Homo sapiens: one gene and its partners. The protein of the gene in region 1 purifies or fractionates together with the protein of each later gene. This does not show direct contact. Each region holds a gene or a part of one and is shown in the gene's direction. Other genes may lie near its edges.

Region 1 (7,363 bases):
GATCAGTTTCTCCTCTCCACGGATCATTCACATGAGTAAAGTCAGTAGCGTGCTGGTAAATGTTTAAGATCTTGTTCTTTGGGGGAAAAAGTTCCTAAGTTCTAGCAGTTGCCCTGGATAACTTCAAGGTATCAACATGGAAGTTATGTACAAAAATGGCTGTCACAAGCCAGTATGAGCTAACACCAACATACTACCCAGTGTTCTTCAAACTTCAGCTCACAGCCCATTAGTGGGGCTTGCAAACATTTTAGTGGACTATAAGCAGCATTTTTTTAAAATGAAAAAGTAGATTGTTTTACACATAACAGGAGTATTGTTTTGTACAATTTTTTTTTTTTTTTTTTTTTTTTTTTAGACACAGTTTCACTCTGTTGCCCAGGCTGGAGTACAGTGGTACAATCTCAGCTCACTGCAACCTCGGCCTTCTGGGTTCAAGCGATTCTCATGCCTCAGCCTCCCGAGTAGCTGAAATTACAGGCATGCGCCACAAGGCCCAGCTAATTATTGTATTTTTAGTAGAAACAGGGTTTCACCATATTGGCCAGGCTGGTCTCAAACTCCTGACCTCAAGTGATCCACCTGCCTCGGCTTCCCAAAGTGCTGGGATTACAGGAGTGAGCCAACGTGCCTGGTCAAAATTTTTGTTTTCGTAATTTTAAGTATGTGTGTAGTAAGTCTCAATGGAAATGTAATTCTTATGGCAGGTCACTTGAAAAAAAAGAAGTCTAAAAGTCACCAATGTAGTATCTTCTCTTTAAAAAAAAAAAAAAAACAACAGGAGAAAACCTGAATCTGCCCTTTGCTCCACTCCTTCCTCAGCTATAATGCTGCTTCTCCATTCCTCCTCACAGCAAACCTTTCTGAAATCTTTATAGTCATGGTTTCCACCAGTTCTTCACCTCCCATTTCTCAACACACTTCAGAGTCAGAGTCAGCAATGACATCCATGTTCCTAAGCCCATTGCTTACTTCCGTCCTCCTTGGCCTCTCAGCACACTTGGCACACAGGCTGTTTCTCTTTCTTTGGCATCTGTGACACCACTCTCAGCAAATTCCCCTGGTTGTCCCTTCTCAGTCTCATTTATTGGCGTTGTCTTATCTCCCCAGGGCTGTCCGAGGTGATTTTCTCCCACTACTCTCCTAGGTGGTGCCATCCAATCTCATGATGTCATATCATTCTTCCCTCATGCTTCAGCCATACTGGTTGGTGGCCTTTGTTTCCTGAACACATTTAATGCATTCTCAAGACCCTCAGGGACTTTGCAGCAGCTGCTCGCTAAGGCTGGAATGCTCTTCCCCACCATCTTCATATGGCTGTTTCCTTTCTTTCACTCACCAGCAGCTTAAACTTTGACTCCTCTGAGAGACTTTCCTTGTCACCCAACTAAGGTTGCCACTCAGGTGCTCCCAATTTAATCTTCTCTAAAACACATCACTGTATGTGTCCTCAACTAGAGTATAAGCTTCCTCGAAACAAGAACAATCAAAACTCCTTGCCCTCATGGAGTTTATAGTCTTATGATGGGTGAAGTAACATAAAATAAAAAGGCACCTTATATAGTATATTAGCATGACAAATGTTAGCCAGAAATAAAGCAAGGAAGAGTTGCTAGGGAGTGTGTATGAGTGTGTTTTGGGAGAGTGTTTGCAATTTTAAATATTGGTGGTCAGGAAGGGCCCCACTGAGAACTGACATTTGAGTAGACTTGAAAAGGGAAAAGGAAATATTGAGTAAAGATTTTAGGATGGGAGTGTGACAGGCCTGCTAGGAGAATAGCAAAGTCGCTGTGGCTGCTGCAGAAAAAGTGAGAAGGAAAGTAGTAGGAGATGAAATCACAGTGTGTGAGGATTCGGGCAGATCAGGAAGTGCTCGTGTAAGAACTGGATCTTTACTCAAAGAATGAGCAAAAATTAGTAGACGGTTGGCCGGATGCAGTGGCTCACACCTGCAATCCCAGGTTACAGGAGGCCGAGGCGGGCGGATCACTTGAGGTCAGGAGTTCAAGACTAGCCTGGGCAACATGGTGAAACCTCATCTCTACTAAAAATACAAAACTTAGCTGGGCATGGTGGCGCGCACCTGTAGTCCCAGCTACTCAGGAGGCTGAGGCACATGAATCACTTGAACACGGTAGGCAGAGGCTGCAGTGAGCTGAGAATGTAACACTGTACTCCACTCCAACCTGGGCAACAGAGTGAGACTGCCTCAAAAAAAAAAAAAAGTAGGTTTTAGTAAGGGATTAACATGATCTGAATTATGTTTTGTCATGACTTCTCTGGCTGTTGTGTTGAGACTACATTGCAGAGGGGCAAGGGCAAATATAGGGAGACCGATTAGGATACTGCAGTAATAATGTAAGAGATGTGGGACTCTATCTAGAAGGGCCCATGAGGTCCTTTGCATGCTAGTATTCTTTACTGCTGTGCCTGGCCATGATAGGCATTCAGTGAATATTTGCTTATTTAAAATAACACACTGGGCTAATTGAACAACAGTGCCAAATGAGGGAGATATTTCTAGGAATAAGTTCTTAGGATTTATGAACATTTTAATCCAGATTTTCTTTGTTAACTCTGCTCTCTGGCCCTTTCACTCAGCCCCGTTTGCACCTAAATATGACTTACAAAAGAAACACAGCATTTATGTGTACTTATTTCAACTTATTTTAGCTTTGTAAAGAAGTACAAGGTTGACTCAGGGCCCAGCTTGGTGTCTCATGCCTGTAATTTCAGCATTGTGGGAGGCCAAGGCAGGAAGATATTGTGAGCCCAGGAGTTTGAGACCAGCCTGGGCAACACAGTGGACCCTGTCTCTACAAAAAAAAATTTTTAAATTAGCTGGGCATAGTGGTGTGCGTCTATAGTCCCAGCTACTCCTGGGGCTGAGGTGGGAGGATCACTTGAGGGAAACCCTGTCTCAAAGTGGCGGGGCTGGGGGGAGACTCAGGCAGAATTGTGAAGATATTCAATTGCTCCTGACTTTATCAATAATCTAACATTTCAACCTAACATTGATATCTATTTTATGCAAAGCATTACACTATGCACTGGAGACTGTATAAGACAAGTTCCTTTTCTCAAACTACAGTCGAGTTGGATAGATAAAACACACAACACATACCAAAAGACAGCTATAAATCCAAGGCAGTGTATGTCAAGGGTAAATTCACCTATTCAGATTGGATCTTGAGAAGTGCATCAGGCTTGGAAAATGGGTAAGGAGGAGAGAAAAGCAACAGTGAATCAGAACATGAGTTCCCAGTTATGGGACTTGTAATGAATTCCTCAATTAAAACAAAAAATAATGAAAACAAAAGCCAGGGAGGAGAAAGCCCACGTTAATGACACTAAAATATATCTTTCCAAACAAATGTGGATAAAAGCCAAGTAGAGAAGATGAGAACTTTGAGGTCCCTAACAGAAAATAAACAGTAAGCAGCCAGCCATTCCAAGTGGCTGACATGACTTTGTTTAACTTTATTTGTATTTCTGGCTGGTGTGTTTACAGCCAATAGGTCAAACTATCAGTCAGTGTAGGGCCCTGAGAAGTCGGGTATTTAAGAGCATCTAATAGGCACAGAATTGTGCTCCATACTGCTTAAACTGTTCCCTAAGTGTCCAATTTGGAGAAAACACCCACACGCAGGATAACTGGCGAGTGACGCGGAGTGGCTGCGAGTCCAAGTTATCACTAACGGATGGGGAGCTTGGGCTGGGCACAGTCCAGCGTACTGAACCCTTCCCCCACCGTTTCACCTGCATACAGAGGTGTGTACTGTCAAAAAGCAGCGCCTCCAAGTCTCTTCTGGCACTGTCTGGACTTGGATCCGAGGCAGACGAGGAAGCTGAGAAAACCCTGGCGTTGACCCCGTGGACCTGGGCGCCCCGGGAAGGCCAGCGCTTGGTCCAGGCAGGCGGGGCCTGTGCGGTGACCACCCTGGTCCTGAAAAGTCCCAGCCCCGAGCGCCCTCCCTCCTAGACCTGGAGGCCTGGAACAGCCAGGTGGACGTCGGCCCACCTTTCTTTTCTTTCCTTCCCATTTTCCTACCACCTCCCACCCCACTCCGCCTTCCGGGCAAAGGCAGCCAGATCCACCCAGGACACATTCTTTGTCCTTATCCCTCTGTGCTCGTCCCACAGCAAGCCAGTCGCGGTCCAAGGCTCCAGAGGCTGTGCAGGAGGCCGAGCTGGGTGGCGATCAGCGGCGGGTCCCTGTCCAAAACCCAGCAGAGCCGCCAGGGACGCCCCAGACACAGAAGGCGGGGCGCGGGGAGGGTGGGGAGACCACAGCAGTGAGGCGCGCGAGCCGGGAAGTGAACGAGGACTGACTCCTGTCGCTTCCCGTAGCCGCCCACGGACGCCAGAGCCGGGAACCCTGACGGCACTTAGCTGCTGACAAACAACCTGCTCCGTGGAGCGCCTGAAACACCAGTCTTTGGGTGAGTCGCGCGACCCCCGGCCTCGGGTGGCGGGGCAGTCGCTAGAGGCGTGGCTGCTCTGAGGGTCTCGCCAGTGGAGGATGGCATTCGGATGTCACGGCTCCTAAATCACCATTTGATGGGTGGGACAGTGTCCAGTCCACCCCGACCCGCCGGTCCTCACCGCGGCAGAGCCGGGGCTGGGTGGCGGGGACGCTGCCTCTGCAGGCGAGGCGCTCCGGGGCATAAGGGATTATCAGGAGTCGCGGCCTTTCTTGGACATCCCTGGCTGGGGTCAGGCTGTTTGCCCTGGGGTGTCTCCTCGCTGCAAACCCACCCCACCTGGGCTGCTTTCTCACCTGTTCCCTCCTAGCCTGAGGCCGAGCGCCACCTCCAAGTGGAGGAATCTGGGGAAGTTTCCTTCCCGGAATTTGTAGTGACAGTGGAGTGACCTCCATTGCGTTCCCTGCCTCTAACACGCTCTTTAGGATGCCGAGTCATTTGACTGCAGTGTTAAACATTGCAAAGCGCAAGTCATGTGACTTCCTTTGACCGTACGTGAAACTTAAGTGATGGCTGCTTGTGATGCATACGAAGTGTTCATGCTGGCGGGACCTGTCCCTGGGGATACTTCGGGGGTTGCGTGATTTAATGCAAGCAGATGGCTTAAATTGGGTCACTGGCTTGTTATTATACATGTGTATGGCAACTCGGCATCCATTCTTTTTGCTCTTGTTCTTACTTCCTGAATTGAGTCACGGAGCCAGAGTTTTGAGGTTTTGACTAACGAATTAAGTTAATGACATGGGGCTATATTTAGGTGGTAAACCAAGAGGGATACAGTTTTTTTTCTTAATAAAGAAAAAGTGATAGATTTGATCGGTGTGTATTGTTGGTGTGCAGTATAATGACAGAATTGCTGGAAGTAAAATACAGGAAGCTCTGGTTTCATTTCCCCTTTAGTTCTGCTTAAAGTCGAGTTTTTCCTGGAGCTATTAAATGTAGTGTAGTGTCCATGAGTGCTTTTATCTTAAAAAATGTGGCTGATGCTTTCCAACACTCCCCTGCCCTGTGATTATTATTTTTTTAAGCAACAGAGAAAACCGTATCTTAATAGTATTAAAAGTATTGGATTTTTCCCTACTTTGATTTGTTTAAATTGGAGGAGGAAGAGCAATTCTTTCTATTCACAATAATAATAGCTAACATAGCGCTTACTCTTTCGCTGTTTTATTAACTCAATCCTCAGAACAAACCAATGATGTGAATACTGTAATTCTCATTTTATGGAAATGAAAATCTAAATGAATACCTCTGGTAATTGTACGGGACTGTTTGATTAGTATTTACCATTAATTAATTAAATTTTTTTTTTTTTTTGAGATGGAGTCTCGTTCTGTTGCCCAGGCTGGAGTGCAGTGGCACAATCTCGGCTCACTTCAACCTCCGTCTCCCAGGTTCAAGCAATTCTCCTGTCTCAGCCTCCTGAGTAGCTGGGACTACAGGTGCATGCCACTACGTCTGGCTAATTTTTGTATTTTTAGTAGGGATGGGATTTCACCATATTGGTCAGGCTGGTCTCTAACTCCTGAACCTCAGGTGATCCACCCGCCTTGGCCTCCCAAAGTGCTGGGATTACAGGTGTGAGCCACCATGCCTGGCCTATTTTAGTATTTTTAATAATAAATTCCATGTTAGAAATTTTCTACTGATGTATTTTTTAAGTCAATATTTCCTACACTCACAATCCAAAATTATTTAGTATATGAGCACACTGGTAAGAATGGGAGGCAGATCGTTGATTGTAATAATATTCTATTATTTGGTAAATATCAGTAACATAATATATAATTTAAATTTTAAAATAGGATATGAAGAAAAATGCTACATGCTTACTTTTCTTTTCCTCTATTTTTACTTTACACAGGGCCAGTGCCTCAGTTTCAATCCAGGTAACCTTTAAATGAAACTTGCCTAAAATCTTAGGTCATACACAGAAGAGACTCCAATCGACAAGAAGCTGGAAAAGAATGATGTTGTCCTTAAACAACCTACAGAATATCATCTATAACCCGGTAACTGATTTCTATAAGATAACTTTTTACCTATGCCAGGACAGATCCAATAGAATATTAATTATCCATTGGGAGACAGGGCAAGAATAAAAGCCAGTGAACATATTTAAAGCACCTACTATGTAATAGAGATGGTGGTGGGTGCTGATTACAAAACAGCTCTTGTCCTCTAGTGGAGGAAGAAGTCACAATGATAATATGACGTGATGAAACAGTGTTATGAACAGGGAACGTCTGGGTAGAGTGGAGGGAATGCCAACTTTTGGTGATGGGAGGAGGCTCAGCTAATCATAAATTGTAGTTTTTAAAGGAAAATGGATTTCTTACTCTACAAGTTTTTCATTTTCTTTTTTAATTAGAGCTGTCCATGAGAAGTTAATGTCTCGATCTTTCCCTCAGCCTTTCAAATACTGCTTGGCCCTTGAGCAGGGAAAATGTCAAAAGCCAATGGGGAGATGGAGAGTGTGAAGTAGTAAGGGTCTCGTGCAGTTCAGGCAGGTCCTAGAATCCCTGAATGACTGTAATTGCTGGAAATTGCCCTGTAATCCTGAGCAGTAAAGAGCTTGTTTTAGTTTTATGTGGTGGTGAGAATCTTTAGGAATGTCTAGTTTCCACGTATCTGAAGCTGAATCCTGAATCGAGGTCTGAAAAAGGACAGCCACTTTTTTAGTAAACCGCCTAGAAGATTCTTGGGCAAAAGGAAGGGTGAGAATCCTTAAAATGAGGCCCTAAACCAGTTTTGTTAGTGTGTGTGGGTTCAAGTTTTTGTCATTTACTTTATAGCTGTATTTCCTTTTTCCCTAAGTTTTAATGTCATTGTGTAAGAATGAGGTATCGCTGCTGTATCAAGCAAAGTCAGTTTTAGGA
Region 2 (7,023 bases), on another chromosome or scaffold:
GCAAGATGAAAAACAAGAACTGGCCAGTTTCTTAGGACATTCTTTTCTGAATGTACACATGCCCAACCTAAGCCACATAAGTCATTTTGCCTGCCTTATGTTATAGTGGTATTAATAAATGTGTATTCATCATTTGTTTATAATTAAGTTATATATACTTCATTTTATGTTGCTTATCACACGAGGAGATAGTACAGAAAGAAAAGCTAGTATTCTTTTTAGAAGTACATTTGCAGGCTGGGTGCAGTGACTCATGCCTGTAATCCCAGCACTTTAGGAGGCTGAGGCAGGTGGATCACCTGAGGTGAGTAGTTCGAGACCAGCCTGGCCAACACGGTGAAACCCTGTCTTTACTAAAAATACAAAAATTAGCTGGGCGTGGTAGCACACACCTATAATCCCAGCTACTCAGGAGGCTGAGGCAGGAGAATTGCTTGAACCTGGGAGGTGGAGTTTGCAGTGAGCCGAGATCACGCCATTCCACTCCAGCCTGGGCAACAAGAGCAAGACTTCGTCTCAAAAAAATAAATAAATAAAAAATAATAAATTTTTGGCCGGGCGCGGTGGCTCACACCTGTAATCCCAGCACTTTGGGAGGCCGAGGCACATGGATCACGAGGTCAGGAGATCAAGACCATCCTGGCTAACATGGTGAAACCCCATCTCTACTGAAAATACAAAAAATTAGACGGGCGAGGTGGTGGGCGCCTGTGGTCCCAGCTACTCGGGAGGCTGAAGCGGGGGAATGGTGTGAACCCCAAGGGGTGGAGCCTGCAGTGAGCCGAGATCGCGCCACTGCACTCCAGCCTGGGCCACAGCGAGATTCCGTCTCAAAAAAAAAATTTAAAAATAAATAAATAAATAAATAAATAAATTTTCACCCATTTTCAGTGCTCACGAAGATACTAGTTCATACTTAGATGAATCTCCTCTATCATTCACAAGCAGAGCATTCAAGCAGGAAAGAGGGTTTCTCTCTAAACAAAATAAATCTCTCCGAAAATCTTTATATTTGACTTTAATAATGTTGCTGAGTAACATTTGGGTACACATCACTCACTTTCTCCACTCCAACCTGTGACCTTCAGGGACAATACTGCTGGAATGTACATGAAATCCTAGAATTCCACAGATAAACTGCAAATTGGTACCCTAAATAAGGAAAAGTAAGAGTTTGCTTTGTGTCTTTTTCTTTGCAAAGTGCTTTTGTTGACCCTGCTACTTATCTTCATCTGCCTTATATCAGCAGTAGAAAGAAATCCCGGAATGGTTCTTGACATGTTGGCTTTGTTATACAGCTACACTGCATTAAAAATGTCAGATACTCAGATCAGTCACTAAATCTTCATTAGTACCTTGCTGTGTGCTGTTACTAATGAAAACACAGGTTCTATTCACATGAAGTTTGTGGCTTGATTTAAATTCTTGCTCTTTGGAATTGTTCCATGTGCTTGTTTAAGTGCTTCGTCTGAAATGGGGAGATATTATTAATATCTACATTTATGCATGTTAATAGCCAGCACTAAGTGAACACTAACTGTACATCAAGCCTTATTTTATGTGCCTATTTCATTTCCTCTTCCCAGATCACACATTCGGTAAGTAATAGAGCTAGGATTAAAACCAAGCCTGGTTCCCAAAGCCTAGCTCAGCCACTACAGTTTTCTGCTTAATAGCTTTCTGGATTAAGCCTGTGACTCTTTTTTTGGGAGGGGGAGGCAGGGCCGGGGGGGCGGCAGCCTCCCGAGCCATAGTAGGCTCAGAGATACCCAAGCCTTTTTTGTGATTCTTTTGTGAGCCTTCTTGGTCATAGTTATTATAAAGCTTCTGGCAGCTCATCCTGCAGTCTAGTTTTATAAAATTGCAAGCCTTCTTGAAGTTTACGACTGTCAGTTCTTTTTCATTCACTTCTAAATACTGTATATCTATATTGTTATGACTCACCCACCTACTAGAAAGTTTGCATGTTCTTCAGTCCAAAATAGTGGTTCAAAATCTCATTTATATGTACTTACATGCCAGTAAGAGAAAAGAGCTGCTCTGTGAAGGTCTTAAAGGATTGTTTTATTCTTTTCTGATTTTTGTAGGGTAAGAAGTACCAATGGGATGCAGAAACTCAAGGATGGATTCTCGGTTCCTTTTTTTATGGCTACATCATCACACAGATTCCTGGAGGATATGTTGCCAGCAAAATAGGGGGGAAAATGCTGCTAGGATTTGGGATCCTTGGCACTGCTGTCCTCACCCTGTTCACTCCCATTGCTGCAGATTTAGGAGTTGGACCACTCATTGTACTCAGAGCACTAGAAGGACTAGGAGAGGTAATTTTCTTTTCTCTCTTGTTTTACTTCTTACCGTGTGTCTCCTTCTCTTCTTCTTAAAGATGTCATTCTTTGGTATGAATATGAACCAAAAAATAACGTTGGATGATAACAGGGGTTTATTTTTTAGAGAAAGGACTAACTAGAAAATTACCTGAATAGATTTTGTTTGTGGTAAATGAGGTCTCTAGTAGGAGCACCCCGAAATTGGAACCTTTACTCAAAAACCAGAGAAAACTTTTTTCCAAAAGAGACTTCATAGCTCATACTTTAGGAGAGAAGAAAATAAACCATTAATAAATGGTTAAGATAGTCCGGGCGTGGTGGCTCATGCCTGTAATCCCAGCATTTTGGGAGGCCAAGGTAGGTGGATCACTTGAGGTTAGGAGTTTGAGACCAGCCTGGCCAACAGGTGAAACCCCATCTCTACTAAAAATACAAAAATTAGCCGGGCATGGTGGTGCACACCTGTAATTGCAGCTACTCGGGAGGATGAAGTGGGAGAACTGCTTGAACCCGGGAGGCAGAGGTTGCAGTGAGCCAAGATCGCGCCACTGCACTCCAGCCTGGACGACAGCAAGTCTCCATCTCAAAAGAAAAAAAAATGGTTAAGATTGACCATCCTTACCTCTTGTGCTCTTGCCACCGTTAAACTCTGCTCTATCATTGATGCCCAAGTCTGAAGCACATTTTACACAATAGACTGTTGAGTTGCATTTAATTTCTTTTTTATCGCTTATTCTTTTATTTTTTCTGGTCTTGTAACTTAGAGACAAATATTTTATGATTTTATATAACTATCTCAATTTAGTTCTATGATTCTGCTCTTTTTAGAAGTATTATTGATTTTTGCCTCTTTTATTTCCCTCCTCTTAATAGTTTTATCATTTTTTAAAATTTTGATTCTTGTCTTTCTTTTCCTTCCCACTTTTCTTTTGTATTTCATCATGTGTACCCCCATACTTAATAATTTTCACTTTTCCTTTATAACTTCGAACTTCTACCTCTGAAATCCAGGGAATGGTGTATTTTGCTCTCTTGCATTTCTTTAATTCAAGCAAGATAATGGCCACTGGGCTTGGTGTAGAGGATGAAGATTATTTTAAGTAGCAGTGTATCATGCTGTTGGAATGAACACTGGACCAGAGTTTGAATAATAGCTCTATTGTATCTAACAGTGAAACCTTAGGTAAGCTCTAATCTCTAGATCTCAGTCCCATCATTTTTTAAACTGGGACTAAAATACCTTCCCTGTTTTCAGTCACAGATTAGATATAAAATTCATATGTGATAAGGATTGCTAGAATACTTTGGAAATTGCCAGGTACTATTAAAAGATTTTTCATTCATCTGAATGTTTTTATTTTGTTCTTATCAGTAGAGGTCCATTAAGTAAACCCTTCCTGATCACAAAATTAAAATTACTCCTCTATTACCAGGTTCCTGTTCTTCTTGACAAAGTAAAATATACTTAAATCTAGCATATTTTCTCTGATCCTAGTATTCAATCTCCTTGCTGAATGTATTCCCATATTTTACTTCCAGTTTATGCCACTAATTTAACATTACGGCATATTGATCATATTACCACTGTTATCTCAGGTGACATTTTATTTATTCATTTATTTATTTTTTTCTAGTCTTTGAGACGGAGTCTCACTCTGTTGCCCAGGCTGGAGTGCAGTGGCATGATCTCGGCTCACTGCAACCTCCGCTTCCTGAGTTCAAGCAATTCTCCTTCCTCAGCCTCCCAAGTAGGTGGGATTACAGGCATGCGCCACCATGCCTGGCTAATTTTTGTATATTTAGTAGAGGCGGGGTTTCACCATGTTGGCCAGGCTGGTCTCGAACTTCTGGCATCAAGTGATCCACCTGCCTCCGCCTCCCAAAGTGCTGGGATTACAGGCATGAGCCACCGTGTCCAGCCAACAACTAAATAGAATTTAAGTTGTATTTATACTCAGGTTCTCTCGTCCTTCTTCATCCCTTCAATATGTATCACAGGTGCATTTCCTCATTCATAAAGGACACTTAGATTACTATCTTGCATTCCTACCATCTGATTCACCATAAATATACCTACATTGTCCCTAGGTTTTATAATAAAGTTTTCTACAACATAATCTCTGTGGGCATTTCCAAACATCTCAAGTTTTCTTCTATAATGACTCATCCTGTGGATGCTCCATCATATAGATTCTTATTGATTTGCAATGTACCTAAATCATCTTTGCCTTCCATTGGTATTACTTTTTTTTAATTCCTTTTGTTTTTGTTTTTGAAAGAGTCAGCGGAAAGTACAAAGTATTAAAACATTTATTCTTCTCTCCACTAATAATAGCACTAGTTACCATTTATCTTTACAACAATTATGCAACCGCCTTGAAGTTCAGGGAGGTTAACTAATCTTTCTGAAGTGACACAGAGAGTGTCCAAGGAGAGCCGTTCTCTCTCACTGTCCTGTGGTATCTCCTCATTTACCCAGTCTCTATGAAACTCCCTGTTTCCACATCCTGTTAGCTCTCCGTGTCAGTAATTGGCATCTACTAGGCTTGTTATCACAGGAAAAAAAAGAAGAAAGGCTGTAAACATGCTAATTGAATTCATCCTTTTTTTAATAGGACTGTTTTTCTGGTTGATTGTCAGCTTGAATTTTTTTTCAGTATCCCAAAATATTAGCTCAGTATTTTTTAAAGTTATAAGTTAGTAATATTCCCTTTCATTCAGGTGATTAATAAAGTGAATGAGTAAAATTAACCTTGAGCAAGATCCCTTTATGTCCTCACTCAGTACAATTATTTTAGATTTATTGTAACCCTTATCTTGTTGTCTTAAAACCAGTTCCAAAATCCATGAATCTTTGGGGAGTTTTACTTTTTTTTTTTAAGAGATGGTGTCTCACTACGTTACCCAGGCTGATCTCGAACTCCTGGGCTCAAGCAATCCTCCTGCCTTGGCCTCCCAAAGTGCTGGGATTACAGGCATGAGCCACCACACCCAGCCTCAAATTCTGAAAGTACTTCATTATAAGATATTTTCACTTAACACTGTAAAAATTTCTCATTTCATGGAACCTGATTCGTTTGATTCTTATCCAGAAAATGCTTTTGTAGCAAAATACTTAACTTACTTTAAAGCATTAACAAAACTACCTTACATTTCATCAGAAATATCATGTTCCCTTCTCTCAGGGTGTTACATTTCCAGCCATGCATGCCATGTGGTCTTCTTGGGCTCCCCCTCTTGAAAGAAGCAAACTTCTTAGCATTTCATATGCAGGTGAGATAACAATTACCAAATTTTGCTGTAATATGTTATGTATATATCAACCTTTGGGAAAAAGGGCCTGCATACCAGAACGATGCAATGTTGGATTGGATGCCCCTTTGGGGAGAACATTAAGTTTCGGTAGTATAACTTTATTACCAATTTTTCTCTTTGGCTCAACAACTTATAGTAATGCAGCTTAATTGACTAATGTCATTTTCCCCATCTGCCATCATCTATTTCAAAGTATGTTGTGTTTTCAGATATTGGTATAGAGATGCTATTTTTTTTCTTTTTCTGTTTACTTTTTTGGGGGTTTTAAATTTTATTTTTGTTTGTTTAGAGATGCTATTTAAAAAAAAGAAAAAAAAAGGCCAGTAGCTAGAAAATTGAGTGTTTTTGTCCTTAAATTGTGATTTCTGTTTTGATTAACTAATGAATGTATCATGATTCTCAACCCCTCTCTTCATGCATCTTTTTTCTATTGCATCTTTATTTGCCATCATTTTGATCTACAGGTGAGATAACATGAGTTTTATATATGTGAATTATAATTTTATCAGATTGCATAAGAAATTCTAGCCTTTCTTTCATTGACTAAATTAAAATTTTTCCACCGGACTGCTTTTTAAATACAGTAGTTGAGAAAAGGCCTCTCTGTGGTACTTTTAAGCTAAAATCTGAAGGATAAGAACAAACCATTCATGCAGGGAGAAGAGCATTTCAGCCAATCAGAACAGCATGTACGAGGGCACTCAGGCAAGAAATAACATAAGGGTTAAAAGAAGTGGAAAACTACCTTGGATGGCTAGAACTCAGTGAGTAAGGAGGATGATGGCATAAGATGAGGTTAGAGAAAGAGATAAGAGCCGGGTTATATCAGGTCTTACAGGCTACAGGAAAAAATGTAGATTGTTTTTTAAGAGGCATGATTCAATTACATTTTAAGAAGATTATTCTTGCAGCTATGTTGAGATTGACATGAGAAATCTGATGATAGGTTCAAGAACAGGTACTATCTAAGGTTCCCTTTTACCTATTGAATAAATCCCAAACTCCTTGAACTAGGGGCAAGATTCTTTACAGTCTTCACTACTTTGTTGCAGCTAGCCTTATATCTCTGGCAGATAGTGCCTAGCATGGAGTAGGTACTCAGTAACTGTTCAACTGTCCAACCTATTTTTCCAGCTTTATCTGCTTTTCCTTTCCTTTACCCAAATGAAGTTCCCAAGCCTACTCTCTGCTTTACTACTTCCATTCCTTTGCTTGTCCTGTTATACTACCTCTATATCTTTTTTCTAATCTTGTTTCTATGGGACCACATTTTAGCCTTTTTTTTTTTTTTGAGCCAGGGTCTCACTCCAGGCTGGAAGGCAGTGGCACAATCGCCCCTCACTGCAGCCTCAACAGCTGAAGCGATCGTCCCACCTCAACC
Region 3 (7,023 bases), on another chromosome or scaffold:
TCAAGACCAGCCTGACCAACATGGTGAAACCCCGTCTCTACTAAAAAAATATACAAAAATTAGCCAGTCATGGTGGCAGGTGGCTGTAATCCCAGCTACTCTGGAGGCTGAGGCAGGAGAATCGCTTGAACTGGGAGGCGGAGGTTGCAGTGAGCCGAGATCAGGCCACTGCACTCCAGTCTGGGTGACAGAGCAAGGCTCTGTCAAAAAAAAAAAAAAAAAAAAAAAAAATGTGTTATTCAGTGTATAGAAGACACCTACAGAATCCTGGCATATGGTAGGCAGCCAACAAACTAGCTACCATAATAATAATGACAATGGTGATTATTGTTACTAAGTTATGTCAAGTCAGGGAGAGGCTTTAGAGATCTTCTCATTCTTCCTCTTTGGGTTATAGATGAGCAAACCCAAGAGAGAGGAGGTGACTTGTCCTGGGTCACTCACAGGAGGATGTAGAGCTCAGGTCTCCTGGGTGCTGTCCTTAAGGAGGAGCACCTGCAAAAGGAGCAGCGTTTGTCTTTTGTGTGGGGTGTTTGAGGAGCAGGAGATACAGGGTGCTGGGGCTGGGCCCCATGACTTATCTGGCCCTAGTTGGTCTTCTGCTTCCAGAAGCTGTGAAAAGATCTCATTTCTAGTCATGGAGGATTCAGGCAGTTGGCTGGGATCTGGGGTCCTGTGGGTAATGGGAGAGATATATTGCAGGGGTGGCAGTGGCTTGGGGACAGACAGGGTGCAGGACCCTGGCTTCCTTCCTCAGAGAACCTAGCAAGTTGTGTGAATGTGTGTGTGTGTTTAGGGGGGCAGGCAGAGGAGATGGTCACTGTCTGCCTCTGCCACCTCCTGCAGCTCGGTGCCAATGTGCTGCTGTTCCTCTGCACCAACGTCATTGGCATCTGCACACACTATCCAGCAGAGGTGTCTCAGCGCCAGGCCTTTCAGGAGACCCGCGGTTACATCCAGGCCCGGCTCCACCTGCAGCATGAGAATCGGCAGCAGGTGGGGCTGCTCCCCGTGACCAGGGCCTGCCCCCACCTTACCCCCAAATAACTTGCACATTGGATCTGCTGCCTTGTCCAGTTCCGTGCAGCACAGTGTGATGGTTCCCCTGGGTTGTGCGTCACAGAGGCCCTGTGATACTGGGGTTTTGTCCTGTCCAAGGGAAGGAGGGCGTAGACAGGAGCACATCTGGGGGCTCAATGGAGGGTGGTCAGAGGGGGCTCTGATGGGGGAAGGTCAGGCCACAGTCCAGAAGGGAAGGTCAGGTCTTCAGAGAAGTCTAGGAGGGCTCTGGCGATGTGGAGAGACCAGGAGGGATTGCAATGTGAGACCAAGAGTATAGTGATGCCCTATTGGAACCACTGGGCTAGGAGCGGCTGCTGCTGTCGGTATTGCCCCAGCACGTTGCCATGGAGATGAAAGAAGACATCAACACAAAAAAAGAAGACATGATGTTCCACAAGATCTACATACAGAAGCATGACAATGTCAGGTAGGGTGAGGGTAGGAGGATGCCCAGCAGGGCGGGGGGTCTGGAAGTCTTTGAGGGCTATGTGTTCTGTTCATCCTCTGCTGTCATCTACAGCATCCTGTTTGCAGACATTGAGGGCTTCACCAGCCTGGCATCCCAGTGCACTGCGCAGGAGCTGGTCATGACCCTGAATGAGCTCTTTGCCCGGTTTGACAAGCTGGCTGCGGTGAGGGTGCTGGGCCTTGGGATTGGGCCTGGGTGTTGACCGTGGTGAGAGCATAGCTTTGCTGGCAGCAGCTGGGGATTTGAGGGCAGATAGAGTATGCGTGGAGGGTGGTGGGCCATGCAGGCTGGGTGGGCAAGAGAGTAAAGGTTACCCTTCCCTCCAATTCCTTCCCATTCAGGAGAATCACTGCCTGAGGATCAAGATCTTGGGGGACTGTTACTACTGTGTGTCAGGGCTGCCGGAGGCCCGGGCCGACCATGCCCACTGCTGTGTGGAGATGGGGGTAGACATGATTGAGGCCATCTCGTAAGCAGTGCCCCATTCCTAGGCTTCCTGGAATTGCGGGTGCCCCAGACTGCTCCTACTTTTTGATGAGACCTCAGGAGATTTCCTCAGTTTTGGCTTTCTCTGTCTTTGAGGTCTGTCTGTCACTGGGAAGGGGAATCTTTCTCCAACCTGTGCAAAGACCCATGCGGACCCCTAGACTCCCAGCCAGCCGAGATGGGGCCGGGAGAGCCTATGCAGTAGGGGAGTTGGGCTAGAGGGAATGCCATCTGTGCAGGCCAGAGGGGATAACAGTGATTCCTCTTCTCCTAGCTCAGTTCCATAAGATGCTGCTGGGCCCCTGCTGTTGAACACAGCCTTAACATTTGTCCTTGAGCCCCATGCAGCCTTCTGCTCATGTCCAACCAAGGCTGTGCTCCCGTCCCCTGCATCTGGGTCTGTCCTTGCCCGCTGGGCCCTGAGAGGAGTGAAGGGCCTGGGTTGTGGGCTGGGGGAGGGGAAGACTGCCAGGAGCTGATCTGGGGCTGCATCCTCCCAGGCTGGTACGTGAGGTGACAGGTGTGAATGTGAACATGCGCGTGGGCATCCACAGCGGGCGCGTGCACTGCGGCGTCCTTGGCTTGCGGAAATGGCAGTTCGATGTGTGGTCCAATGATGTGACCCTGGCCAACCACATGGAGGCAGGAGGCCGGGCTGGGTGAGTAGGGGGGTCCAGGTGGGGGGGATGGGGGCAAGGTGGGAGAGCCAGGGTCTCACCCTCTTGGCCACATACAGCCGCATCCACATCACTCGGGCAACACTGCAGTACCTGAACGGGGACTACGAGGTGGAGCCAGGCCGTGGTGGCGAGCGCAACGCGTACCTCAAGGAGCAGCACATTGAGACTTTCCTCATCCTGGGCGCCAGCCAGAAACGGGTCAGGGCCAGGGCAGGGCTGGGGGCAGGGGAGCAAGAAGAGGGACAAATGGGGAGGAGCAGGCCAAGGCCTCCTCTGGGCCCCTCTTCTGAGCCTGTACCCATGCTGCCCGCACAGAAAGAGGAGAAGGCCATGCTGGCCAAGCTGCAGCGGACTCGGGCCAACTCCATGGAAGGGCTGATGCCGCGCTGGGTTCCTGATCGTGCCTTCTCCCGGACCAAGGACTCCAAGGCCTTCCGCCAGATGGTGAGGGGCCCTCAGCACCAGACCTAGGGCCTCATTTTCTTAGCTCCCTCAATACCCTGTCCCTGACCCTGTCCTTTCTTGTGACTGCCATTTCCATGTATGCTTTCTGGTATTGGGGCAGTGAGAAGATTTCATCTCGGGTCCCAGTGCCCCCAGAGGATATGACGGGGACACCCTCAGCACAGTGTTGGGGTGGGGGAAGGAGCTGCAGAGATGAAGGTTGTTGGCCCTTCACCTCACTCCACACTCTGTCCCTTTCTCCAGGGCATTGATGATTCCAGCAAAGACAAGTAAGTCAGGTTACTGAGGAGGGAGAAGGCACTTGCACCCTGGGATGGGGCTGGGGGGAGCCGAGATCCTCCTTTTCCCTGACCTTAGGAGTGTTGTGTGGGAGCAGGAGCCACCCCCCTGGCTCTCCCTCCCTCCCTCAGGTGCTGTCCATACCTTTCCTTTCATTGTTTCTCACATGGCCATGCCCATGCAACTGGTGAAACCATGTCTCCTGCCCTCAGCCGGGGCACCCAAGATGCCCTGAACCCTGAGGATGAGGTGGATGAGTTCCTGAGCCGTGCCATCGATGCCCGCAGCATTGATCAGCTGCGGAAGGACCATGTGCGCCGGTTTCTGCTCACCTTCCAGAGAGAGGATCTTGAGAAGAAGGTTTGAGGGATACAGGGCAGAAGGACAAGGGCTGGGGGAGGGGCAGGTCGCAGCAGGGAAGGCTGAGCACAGGTGAGGGCACAGGTGTTTCTGGGGGATGGAGAAGGGACCACAGAGCAGGGTGAGGATTTCATCAGTTGAGCCAACTGCATCTCCTCCCTGTTGAGACCCCTGGTAGTGCCCTGTCCTTGCTGTCCCTGCCTTCCTTAGGGAGGGCCCAGCACTCAGCTCAGCCTCCTCTCCCTCAGTACTCCCGGAAGGTGGATCCCCGCTTCGGAGCCTACGTTGCCTGTGCCCTGTTGGTCTTCTGCTTCATCTGCTTCATCCAGCTTCTCATCTTCCCACAGTGAGAGCCCTGCCTTTCCTCTCTTAGCTTCTCTCTTCACCACTTCCCAGAAGCTTCCTAAATACCCACACAAGCCCACAATCCCTGGAGCCTGCATCCCTGCTTGTTCCAGAGGGTGGGACAAGAATGCCCAGATCTTCCAGAATTAAATGATTTTTCTGGCCCTGTTCTGCCCCAGCTCCACCCTGATGCTTGGGATCTATGCCAGCATCTTCCTGCTGCTGCTAATCACCGTGCTGATCTGTGCTGTGTACTCCTGTGGTTCTGTACGTAAGGGGATTTCTGAGGCTGTTGGGGAGGGCAGGCTGGACTCCAGACAGGGAGGAGGTCACATGGGGAGAGGGAGAAGGCCATGCCTCTTCCACTGGGCCCCATCCCTGGTTGCCATTCCTCCTTGGCTGATACAACCTTCAACTCTTGGTCTCTTGATGCCTCTAGCTGTTCCCTAAGGCCCTGCAACGTCTGTCCCGCAGCATTGTCCGCTCACGGGCACATAGCACCGCAGTTGGCATCTTTTCCGTCCTGCTTGTGTTTACTTCTGCCATTGCCAACATGGTAAGGGTCCAGTGGGAATTCTCCCACCTCTGCTCTGTGCCAAGCACTGTCCTGGACACTGGGAGTACAGCGGAGAAAAGGACATATTTTCTGCCCTCAGGGAGCCCCCTCCCAGAATAGGGGAAGGTTAACTCCGGTTCTCCTTCCTTGTTCTCCCAACCTCTTGTCATCCCTGAGTGAGTACTAAGGCCCATGGGGTATAAGGTACCTGGGCATAGCCCAGGTTAGGGTACATGGCTTCACCAGGTACCTTGCAACCCTTTCCCTCCTTGGTTACCCTGATATACCCCTCCACTTTTGCAGTTCACCTGTAACCACACCCCCATACGGAGCTGTGCAGCCCGGATGCTGAATTTAACACCTGCTGACATCACTGCCTGCCACCTGCAGCAGCTCAATTACTCTCTGGGCCTGGATGCTCCCCTGTGTGAGGGCACCATGCCCACCTGCAGCTTTCCTGAGGTGTTCGAGCAGTGCTCAGGCGGTGGGGGGGCTGTCCTGGCACAGACATTGGCCCTTCTGTGCCAGGCCTGGTGATGGGCGCTGGGGACCCAGGAACTCACCAGAGTCTCCCACACTAGGAGCAACCAGGGGCCCTGGTGTGTTGTAGGGGCTGGGCATGGAAGGTGGAGGATATGGGGGTTTGAGGGGTGTGGTGGGAAGGTTAGGTCAGGCAGGAGAGTGCAGGGCTCTCCCTGCCCAAGGGTGCTGTGGCCTCTGCCTTCACCCAACGCTGCCTCTGCCACCCCCGCAGTACTTCATCGGGAACATGCTGCTGAGTCTCTTGGCCAGCTCTGTCTTCCTGCACATCAGCAGCATCGGGAAGTTGGCCATGATCTTTGTCTTGGGGCTCATCTATTTGGTGCTGCTTCTGCTGGGTCCCCCAGCCACCATCTTTGACAACTATGACCTACTGCTTGGCGTCCATGGCTTGTGAGTTTATTCTCAGGTCCTTTAATACCCCAGGAGCTTCCCTCACCTTTCTAGGTCACTGTGAGCCTCTCTGGTGCCCATGCCCCTTGTGCCTTGGAATGCCACAACACCCCTGTGGGGGAAAGGGAGGAGATGGAGGAGCTCCCAGCATGTGACCCCAAATAGTTACCCCCAAGGAAACCCTAGTCCTGGGAAATCCTTGTGTCTTTAGGCTAGACATTAAAAAAAAAAATTCCCTCTTACATTTGCATGGTGCTTTCACATCCACCATCTTAACCACCTATAGGACATACAGCTGCTTGGTGGCAGGGCTCTGGTTAGGAACCAAAGCTTCTGATTCCTGCTTGGGGGCTTTGCCTGGGACACCACACTGGCTTTTCCTCTGCAAAACCCCATTCCTTTGATATGTGGCCATAGCTTGTTGTAGTAGAAAAAGCCTCTGGTCTCTGCTGGGTTTGAATCCCTGCTCTGCTGCTCATTAGCTGTGTGACTTTAGACAGGTGAGTTAGCTTCTCTGAGCCTCAATTTCTTCATCTGTAAAATGGCAATGTCACCTAAATCACAGGGTAGTTGTAAAGATTATAGTAACTAACATTTATGGAAGGCTGACTATATGGCAGGCACTGTGCTAAGCCTTTTACATACATTATTTAGATCTGATCCCTGTTGTACTGATGAGGAAGGAGGCTTAGAGAGTTAAGCGACTTGTCTCAGGTCACATAGCTGGTAAGTAGAGGAGTCTCTAAGAGCAGAGGTTTTCTTAACCTCTACTCTTAATGAGTTAATTAATGTAAGTAAAAGCCCTGGCCCAATGCCTGACTTACAGTATGTGCTCAGTAAATGCAGTCTCTTGTCTCCCCTTCCATGTGCCCACCCAGCAATCCAGGAAGCACTGATGACTTTGTCTCTTCTATCTTCTTACCAGGGCTTCTTCCAATGAGACCTTTGATGGGCTGGACTGGTAAGTGAGGGCTCCGAGGCAGCAAAGGGTAGAGCCATTAGATGCCTCCTTCAGACACCAAGCATGTCTCTGCTTATCCTTAGTCCAGCTGCAGGGAGGGTGGCCCTCAAATATATGACCCCTGTGATTCTGCTGGTGTTTGCGCTGGCGCTGTATCTGCATGCTCAGCAGGTGGAGTCGACTGCCCGCCTAGACTTCCTCTGGAAACTACAGGTGACTGTGTGGGCCTTTGGGGGAAGAGGAGGAACCTAGGGGCGGAGCCTGGGCCAGGCCAGAAATGTATCTTGTGCTAGCTGGCTAAGGCTCAGGCCACACCTAGGCCCACCCTGGTTCCATTCCTTCTCTGTGCCCATCCCTTACTCCCTGCCCCATCCTCTACCTGCCCCCTTTACCCCTTTGCCTGTTCTTTAGGCCTCATCTGTCTGGG
Region 4 (7,773 bases), on another chromosome or scaffold:
TATTTCCTCATATCAAAATGCTTAATTTAATCACATCTGCAAAGTTTCTTTTACTCTATAAGGTAACATATTTACAGTTTTGCAGATTAGGATGTGAACATCTTTGCTGGGGGCATCATTCAGCCTAGCACAACTGGTAACTCACAGGCTATTCCAAATTTAATAAATCCCAAGACAATCTTCTAATCTTCCCATCTCCGAAATCTGCTCATCTTAGTGAACCCCATCTCAGCAAATGTGCCAACATCCACATAGTTCCTCATCCCAGAATCCTGGTCCTCATTTTAGACATGTCCCTGTAATTAATCCACATCCCACCAACCACGAAGTCTTCCTGATTCTTTAACCTAATCTTTTTTAAATTTTTTATTTTTTCCATCTTCAATATAATTGTCACATCAGGACGACTGTGGCAGTCTCCTAGTAGAACTCCCCACATCCCAGACTTATTCCCACATCCAATTTATCCTCCAAGCAGTAACCAGAGTAATCATTTCAAATGCAAATCTAATCATGTTACTCTTTTCAGTAGTTCTAATCCTAATCACATGCTCAGTGATTCTGGTGACAAGCCTCCATCCGGAAGCTTTTTAAGGCATCTCTTCCTCATTCCCCTGACACGAATTACCTCATTAGCATAACAAAGACATCCCTATCACTAAGGGTATTCCATGGGTTTTTGAATCTCTGTACTAGGAACCAGAGACAAAGACTTTATATATATATACACACACACACACACACACACGTGTGTATATATATATAATTTTATATATTATATATTATGTATATAATTTATTATACCACATACAGTCCTATGGTTTTTGACAAATGCATAATGTTATGTATCAATCATTATAGTATCATACAGAATAGCTTCACTACCATACAAATCCCCTGTGCTTCCCCTACTCACCCATCTGCATCTCCCCTAAACCCCTGGCAATCATTCATCTTTTTATTGTCACTATAATTTTGCCTTTTCCAGAATGTCACAATGTTGGAGCCATACAATATGTAGTCTTTTTAGACTGGCTTATTCACTTAGAAAAATACATTTATCAATCTCCTTTTTTTTTAAATTTAGAAATGAGGTCTCACTATGCTGTCCAGGCTGGAGTGGAGTGTCTATTCATAGACTGCAGCCTTGAACTCTGAAGCTCAAGTGACCCTCCTGCCTCAGCCTCTCTAGCAGCTGGGACTACAGGTGACTGACTTTCCCGTGTCTTATTAAGGCTTGATAGCTCATTTTTTATTGTTGAATAATATTCAGTTGCATGGATGTACCACAGTTTGTTTCTCCATTAACCTATTGAAAGACATCTTGTTTGTTTCCAATTTTTGGCAATTATGAATAAAGCCTCCTTAAATATTCACGTGTAGCTTTTGTGTGTACATAAGTTTTCAACCAATTTGAGTAAATACCTAGGAACATGATTCATGGTTCATATGGCAAGACTATGTTTAGCTTTGTAAGAAACTTCTGAATTGTCTTCCAAAGTGGCTGTACCATTTTGCATTCCCACCAGCAATGAGAGTTTCTCACTCTAGTTTGCATTTGGTACTGTCAGTATTTTGGATTTTAGCCATTCTAATAGGTGTATAGTGGTATCTCATTGATGTTTTAATTTGCAGTTCCTTAATGTTACGTGATGTTGAGCTTCTTTTTACATAGTTATTTGCCATATCCATCTTCTTTGGTGAAATGTCTGTTCAGATCTTTTGTCCAATTTTTAATTGGCTTGTTTTATTATTGTTGAGGTTTAACTGTTCTTTGCGCATTTTGAACACAATTTTTTTTAAATAAAATAGAGATAGGGTCCCACTATGTTGCCCAGGCTGGCCTCAAACTCCTGGGCTCAAGTGATCTTCCCACCTCAGCCTCCCAAGCAGCTGGGACTACAGGTGTCTGCCACCACATCCAGCTAATTTTATTTTTTGTTTAGAAATAGGGTCTTGCTATGTTGCGTAGGCTGGTTTCAAACTCCTTGGCTCAAGCAATCCTCCCACCTAAGCCTTCCGAAGTGCTGGGATTACAGGTGTGAGCCACTGCACTTGGCCAAAATTCTTTATCAGACATATTTTTTACAAATATTTTCTCCCAGTCTGTAGCTTGTCTTCTCATTCTCTTGACACTGTCTTTTACAAAGCAAAAGTTTTTCATTTTAGTAAAGCCCAACTTGTCAACTTTTTCTTCCATTGTGCATTTGTTGTTTCATCTGAAATCTTTTTGCCAAATCTGAGGTCACCTATATTTTCTCCTGTGTTATCTTCTGGCAGTTTTATAGTTTAGCTTTTAAATTTAAGTCTATGATCCATTTTTATTTAACTTTTGTGAAGGGTGTTAAGTCTATGTCTAGATTCAATTTTTTTTTTTTACATGTGGAAGTCCAGTTGTTCCAGCACCATTTATTGAGAAGACTGTCCTTTGCTACTTTGCCAAAGATCTGTTAAATGTATCTGTTTGGGTCAAGTTCTGTGCTTTGTATTCTGTTCCATTGATCTATTTGTTTATTCTTTTGTCAATACCATGCTCTCTTGATTACTATAGCTTTATAGTAAATTTTGAAGTTGAGTACTTCTATGGACTGAATGTTTGTGTCCCCCCAAAATTTATATGTTGAGGCTTAATCTCCAATGTGATGGTATTTAGACCCAAGGTTTTTGAGAGATAATTAGCTCATGAGAGTTGAGCCCTCGTAATGAAATGAATGCCCTAATAAGAATAGATAGAAGAGAATGTGCTTTATCTGTCTTGTTTTCTGCCATGTGGGGATACAATGGGAAGAATGCCATCTGCACACTCAAAAGTGAGCCCTCACCAGATTTCCAGATGTGCCAGCAACTTGATTTTGGGCTTCTCAGACTTCAGAGATGTGAGAAATAAATTTCTGTCGTTTAAGCCACCCAATCTATGGCAATTTGTTACAACAGCCTGAACTAAGGTACTGTTAGGCCTCTGACTTTGTTCCTCTCCTTTGGTATTGGTTTGGCTCTTCTGGTCTTTCATTTTTCCATATAAACTTGAGAATCAGTTAATATCCACAAAATAACTTGCTGGGATTTTGATTGATTTGATTTGATTGTATCAAATCTATAGATTAAGTTGGGCAGAACTGACAGTTAAATATCAAGTACTCCTATCCATGAAAATGGAATATCTTTAAATTTATTTAGATCTCCTTTGAACTTTGTAGTTTTTCTCATTGGAAGTTTTTTTTATTTAGAATTTTGTAGTTTTTCTTGTATAAACCTTTTACATATTTTGTTAGATTTATACCTAAATATTTCATTTTATTTTGGTGCTAATGTCAGTGGTTATTGTTTTTAATTTCAAATACCAATTGTTTATTGATGGTATATAAGAAAACAACAGACCATGTATGCAGGTCGACTATTCCTAGTACAGAAATCCAAAATATGAACTACTCTAAAATATGAAACTTTTTGAGTGCTGACATGAGGACCAAGGGAAATGTTCACTGGAACATTTTGAGTTTTGGAGTAGGGATGGTAAACCCATAAGTATATAATGCAAATATTACAAAAGCAAAAAAAAAAAAAATCCAAAATTGGAAACATTTCTGGTCCCAAGCATTTTGGCTTAGAATGAGCCTGTTTTAAACTTGCTCATGCAAACTTGCTATAATTGCTTTTCATTCTGTTTTTTTAGGCGAGGAGTGTCAATTTTTTCCGGATTTTCTATGTTAGATAACCATCTCATCTGAAAGCAAAAAGTTTTATTTCTTCCTTCCCAATCTACCTTGTAATTATTTTTAAATGTCCATTTCATCAGCCTAACTATAACCTTACTGAGAGCAAAGTTTTCATCTTTAGTTGTCACCTCTTTTACACTCAGATTTTTATTAGTTTTGCCATATATTAAATTATTCTGGCACTAATTTAGCTAGAAATAAACTGCTTGTAAATGCTATTTTGTCAAGGACTCTACAGTATTCCGTGGTAACTATGATTACTCTTGGGTAAACTGTGCCTCAGTTTCTTTGTCTGTAATGGGATGTCTTTATAGACTGATGTGAAGACCAAATAAGACTATACATTAAGTTCGTAGAGCTATGGCTGGCACAAAATCAGCCCTCAAGAAATGATCGTTATGTTTTTTTACTGGGAAGCAATTACTTTTGCGCAGCACCACACCTAACTCTCAATAGCGAAGGAATATTAGCTTAGGCGGACAGAGTAATACGCCCCCCACCCCCAACATCCAAATTTCCAACAGAAAAATAAAGCAGGAGTTGAGAAGGGGTCGTGAGAGGAACGTTTCTGAGCCTATAGTGGAGAGGTACAGCAAGCGGAGAGTGAGACTAGGGCAGCAAGTGGTGGAAGTCGAAGGCATCCCAAGAGGGAACAGGGGCTCCCGAGACCTCTTTGAATTGGAGGCGACGAGAACCAAGCGACCGTGAGCTGCGATGCACACAGTAGTGAGTGGGTGGCACGGGGCCCGCGGGCACGAACAGCCGAAGAGCGGAGAAGACTGGGAGCATAACCGCTGGGCAGCGGGCAGCGGACAGCGGGCGGCATGAACCGCCCCACTTTGCCGGATACCTGGAGCTGCAGGAACGACCCACACCCAGGCCTCTTTACCCCTACCGCCCCGTTACCTTGGGGACGGGATCACCCGACCCGGCGCCGTGCGACTGCGCGGGCTGAAGGCGGGGGCGGTGCCATGACGCGCCTCGGGGGCGGTCCTCGGGCGCGCACCGCTCTCTTACACTCGGGCCTCAGAAGTCCGTGCCAGTGACCGGAGGCGGCGGCGGCGAGCGGTTCCTTGTGGGCTAGGTGAGAGGCCAAGGGGGCAAGGAGGGACGCCGGTGCCAGGTCCCGGGCGCGGGGACTTGGGGCAGAGGTGTGACGGTCCCTGGGCCACTTCACAGACTGCATCCTGGTCGCAGCCGTTTTCGCGAGGCAGCGGCGACGCCCTCTCCTCAGGGGGCTCCGCGCCCCTCCCTGCGCCCTGCTGGCTGGGGGGGCAAGTTTGCGGGAGCAGCGCGCTCTTCCTGCCGCGACCCCGCGCGTTTCGGGTTCCTGCCCGGGCTGGGGCTGGGGCTGGGGCTGGGGCTGGGGCTGGCAGAGCCCGGAGGCCCGGCTGGGTGAACGCCTTCAGCCCCCGCCCCAGCTCTGGGGTTCTTCCTGGGACCGTCTCTCGATCCTTGTTTTCTCCTCGATAAGATCTCGACATAAGAAAGAGCCTCTGGCCACGGTTCCTCCCAGTGCTCGGCGTTTCTAGGGCTGTGCTTAATCGCCCTTCTTTTGGGTTATTCGGAAAGTCCTGGATTTGAAAGGAGGAAGGAAGTGTTTGTTTATTGGGCGAAGCCTTGACTTTTTTGGAAGGGGGTGGGGAGAGGTTGTTCGCTTTGAGCTTTTTCCTGGAGAAGTTGGACCTGAGGGAGAAACGTTTCCAGTAGGGTGTGTTTAGAAGGAAATACCCCTGAGATCTGACCCCTGAGATATGATGACTCAGAGCCTTCCTTTCAGGATTTCCTTGTAATAATGGGAAAGGGAAGGCATATGGATGTGGAAAGTTTTCACTTTTACCAAAGTGGTGATTATTGAGTCATGGAGTCTTCTAATGTGTCCATTTTTGAAAGGAGTTTGTAGATTATCTAGTCTGTATAACCACATACACATTTACTGTTATCTTTTCCATTACGTACATTGCTTAGAAAGTACGCTCGGCTTACCAAACTCTTAACATCCGCTTGTTTCAAAAAGAAATCGTTGATTAAAGCAGGAAATTTACCTTGAAAAACAACTGCGGGCCTTTTAAATTAAATTGATTTCTAAATGTGTATGTGATTAGTTAAAACTCAAATTTGTTCAGTCTTTTTATTTTCCTGTTTAAGATTGAGGGATAACGGTAGAAAATACGTCCTTTTGTCTTCTGTGTTACCAACTTAATTCTATAAAATTTGTGCCTTAAATGGTACATAAATATTATAAATCTAGTGGTTTGTGGCACAGAATAAAAAGAAGTAGAATGACTTTTAAAATGGTCAGTAAATAGTCACTCCATTATAAATTAAATTTAACTTTGGAGACATTAACTTTTAGTTTTGGGCATTATAGGAAAAGATGTAAAAAGGGGAAAAAGATGAACAAAAGGGGAAGAATTTGCTAATGGTTGCCGGTTAAATGTACTGTTTAATTAAAGAGTTTCTTAAAATGAGCGTGACAACTATTTTCCCTGTTTTTGCCAGATTTGGGAACTTTTTATAGGTATTAAATGCCAAGAGATTCTAAAAAAGAAAAGCGCCCCCAAATAACTTTGAAATACTTTCTACTTTTAGCAATAGTTACGTTAGCATTTATTAATTTCTTTTCAAGTGCTGCCAACATGTTTTGTAAATGTATTGTTTTTGAGTAGGTAAACAGTCACTTGTCTCAAAATTTAAGCAGCATAAAAAGGTATAAAGTAACAAGTCTTCTGGCAGGCAGGCAACTTTTTTACATTTCTTAGGTATTCTAGGCAAATTTTATATCTACACAGGCAAACATATAAGCTGTATTTGCCTCCTTGCTTTTAACACAAACGTTAACATTTTATATACTGCTTCACATTTTGCTCTTATTTTTCCAGTTAGTGATCATATTTTGGAGCTTTTCTAATATCAGCATATATAGCTTTCAAGTCTTTTGCTGTTACACTCAGTGCTGCAGTGAATCAACTTTTACATATGTTGCTTCCTTTGTGCACATATATTTTTACACTTCAGGTTTTGAGACCTGAAGTGATACTGCAGAGTTGGAGGGTATCTGAATTTAGAATTTCGGTAAGATAACTGCAAACCCACTCTGTATGGTAATTGTACTAGTTTACGCTCCCATTAGTAGTATGTGAGTGTTTCTCAAAGGCTTGCTGTCAGAGAATGTCAAACTTTGGATTTTTGCCAGGTGAGAAATGGAATCCTATGGGTAAGGATTAATTATTCTATTACAGTGGACTTCATATGGACATACTTCTTAATGGCTGATCATCAGAAACCCCCAGGATACTTATTAAAAAGAAGAGTTCCTAAGTCCTTCCGTGAAATCTGTGTCTGCCCAGGAAGCTGTTTTTATAATAACTAGAGCCTCGGGTAATTTGGCTCTGATGATTAGCCAGATTGAGAAACATTGCTCTGGAAGACTGCTTAGGATATATTAAATTGTGTTTCTAGACCTCATGTATGAGCCATCTGGAATGCTTACTATCTGGGTCCAATGGACACTTTATTTTTTCATTTTTTAGTTTTTTTTTTTTTTAGAGATGGAATCTTGCTCAGGCTGGTCTTGAACTCCTGGGCTGAAGCAGTCCTCCTGTCTCAGCCTCTGAAAGTGCTAGGATTACAGGCATGAGCCATACGGTTCCTGGCCTGATAATTTTATTTTTTACATTTTTCATTCATTTTATGAATAGTTTGCAGAAGTGAAATTAAAGACATAATGAAACACAACTTTACTAGAAATTTTAATAACTGCTTCAACAAATTATCACTCCAAATTTTCCTGGTTTTGAAGATATCAGTAGTTGAAATAGGCAACATCTTCGAATTCAACTAATTGCTTATCAACTGTCATATAATTTTTTAAAAAAATCAATGATTCTGCCGTCCTAAATTTTTATTATCCCAAGATGTTTTTAATACAGCGGTTCCCGACATTTTTGGCACCAGGGACTGGTTTCATGGAAGACAGTTTTTCCACGGACGGGATAGGTGGATGGCTTCAGGATGAAACTATATCACGAGGAGCGTTTAACCTAGATCCCTTGCA

The links.
Region 2: the proteins of LGALS8 (region 1) and SLC17A5 purify together in Homo sapiens (affinity purification with mass spectrometry; 4 studies listed by BioGRID and IntAct, with this or other methods). This does not show direct contact.
Region 3: the proteins of LGALS8 (region 1) and ADCY6 purify together in Homo sapiens (affinity purification with mass spectrometry; 3 studies listed by BioGRID and IntAct, with this or other methods). This does not show direct contact.
Region 4: the proteins of LGALS8 (region 1) and SDCBP purify together in Homo sapiens (affinity purification with mass spectrometry; 4 studies listed by BioGRID and IntAct, with this or other methods). This does not show direct contact.

Annotation. Positions count from the first base shown.
Region 1 is NC_000001.11:236,519,620-236,526,982, forward strand, and holds the start of LGALS8 (galectin-8), read left to right. Parts: upstream 1-4,362; 5' UTR 4,363-4,442; exon of another isoform or gene 4,443-4,889; intron 4,890-6,348; 5' UTR 6,349-6,451; coding exon 6,452-6,496; intron 6,497-7,363.
Region 2 is NC_000006.12:73,636,989-73,644,011, reverse strand, and holds part of SLC17A5 (sialin), read left to right. Parts: intron 1-2,087; coding exon 2,088-2,321; intron 2,322-5,512; coding exon 5,513-5,600; intron 5,601-7,023. UniProt on the Homo sapiens protein: Multifunctional anion transporter that operates via two distinct transport mechanisms, namely proton-coupled anion cotransport and membrane potential-dependent anion transport.
Region 3 is NC_000012.12:48,772,081-48,779,103, reverse strand, and holds part of ADCY6 (adenylate cyclase type 6), read left to right. Parts: intron 1-846; coding exon 847-996; intron 997-1,367; coding exon 1,368-1,489; intron 1,490-1,582; coding exon 1,583-1,694; intron 1,695-1,872; coding exon 1,873-2,000; intron 2,001-2,517; coding exon 2,518-2,676; intron 2,677-2,753; coding exon 2,754-2,895; intron 2,896-3,012; coding exon 3,013-3,141; intron 3,142-3,405; coding exon 3,406-3,431; intron 3,432-3,653; coding exon 3,654-3,801; intron 3,802-4,049; coding exon 4,050-4,147; intron 4,148-4,325; coding exon 4,326-4,413; intron 4,414-4,585; coding exon 4,586-4,702; intron 4,703-5,005; coding exon 5,006-5,164; intron 5,165-5,456; coding exon 5,457-5,635; intron 5,636-6,560; coding exon 6,561-6,596; intron 6,597-6,679; coding exon 6,680-6,809; intron 6,810-7,023. UniProt on the Homo sapiens protein: Catalyzes the formation of the signaling molecule cAMP downstream of G protein-coupled receptors. Functions in signaling cascades downstream of beta-adrenergic receptors in the heart and in vascular smooth muscle cells.
Region 4 is NC_000008.11:58,548,504-58,556,276, forward strand, and holds the start of SDCBP (syntenin-1), read left to right. Parts: upstream 1-4,757; 5' UTR 4,758-4,800; intron 4,801-7,773. UniProt on the Homo sapiens protein: Multifunctional adapter protein involved in diverse array of functions including trafficking of transmembrane proteins, neuro and immunomodulation, exosome biogenesis, and tumorigenesis.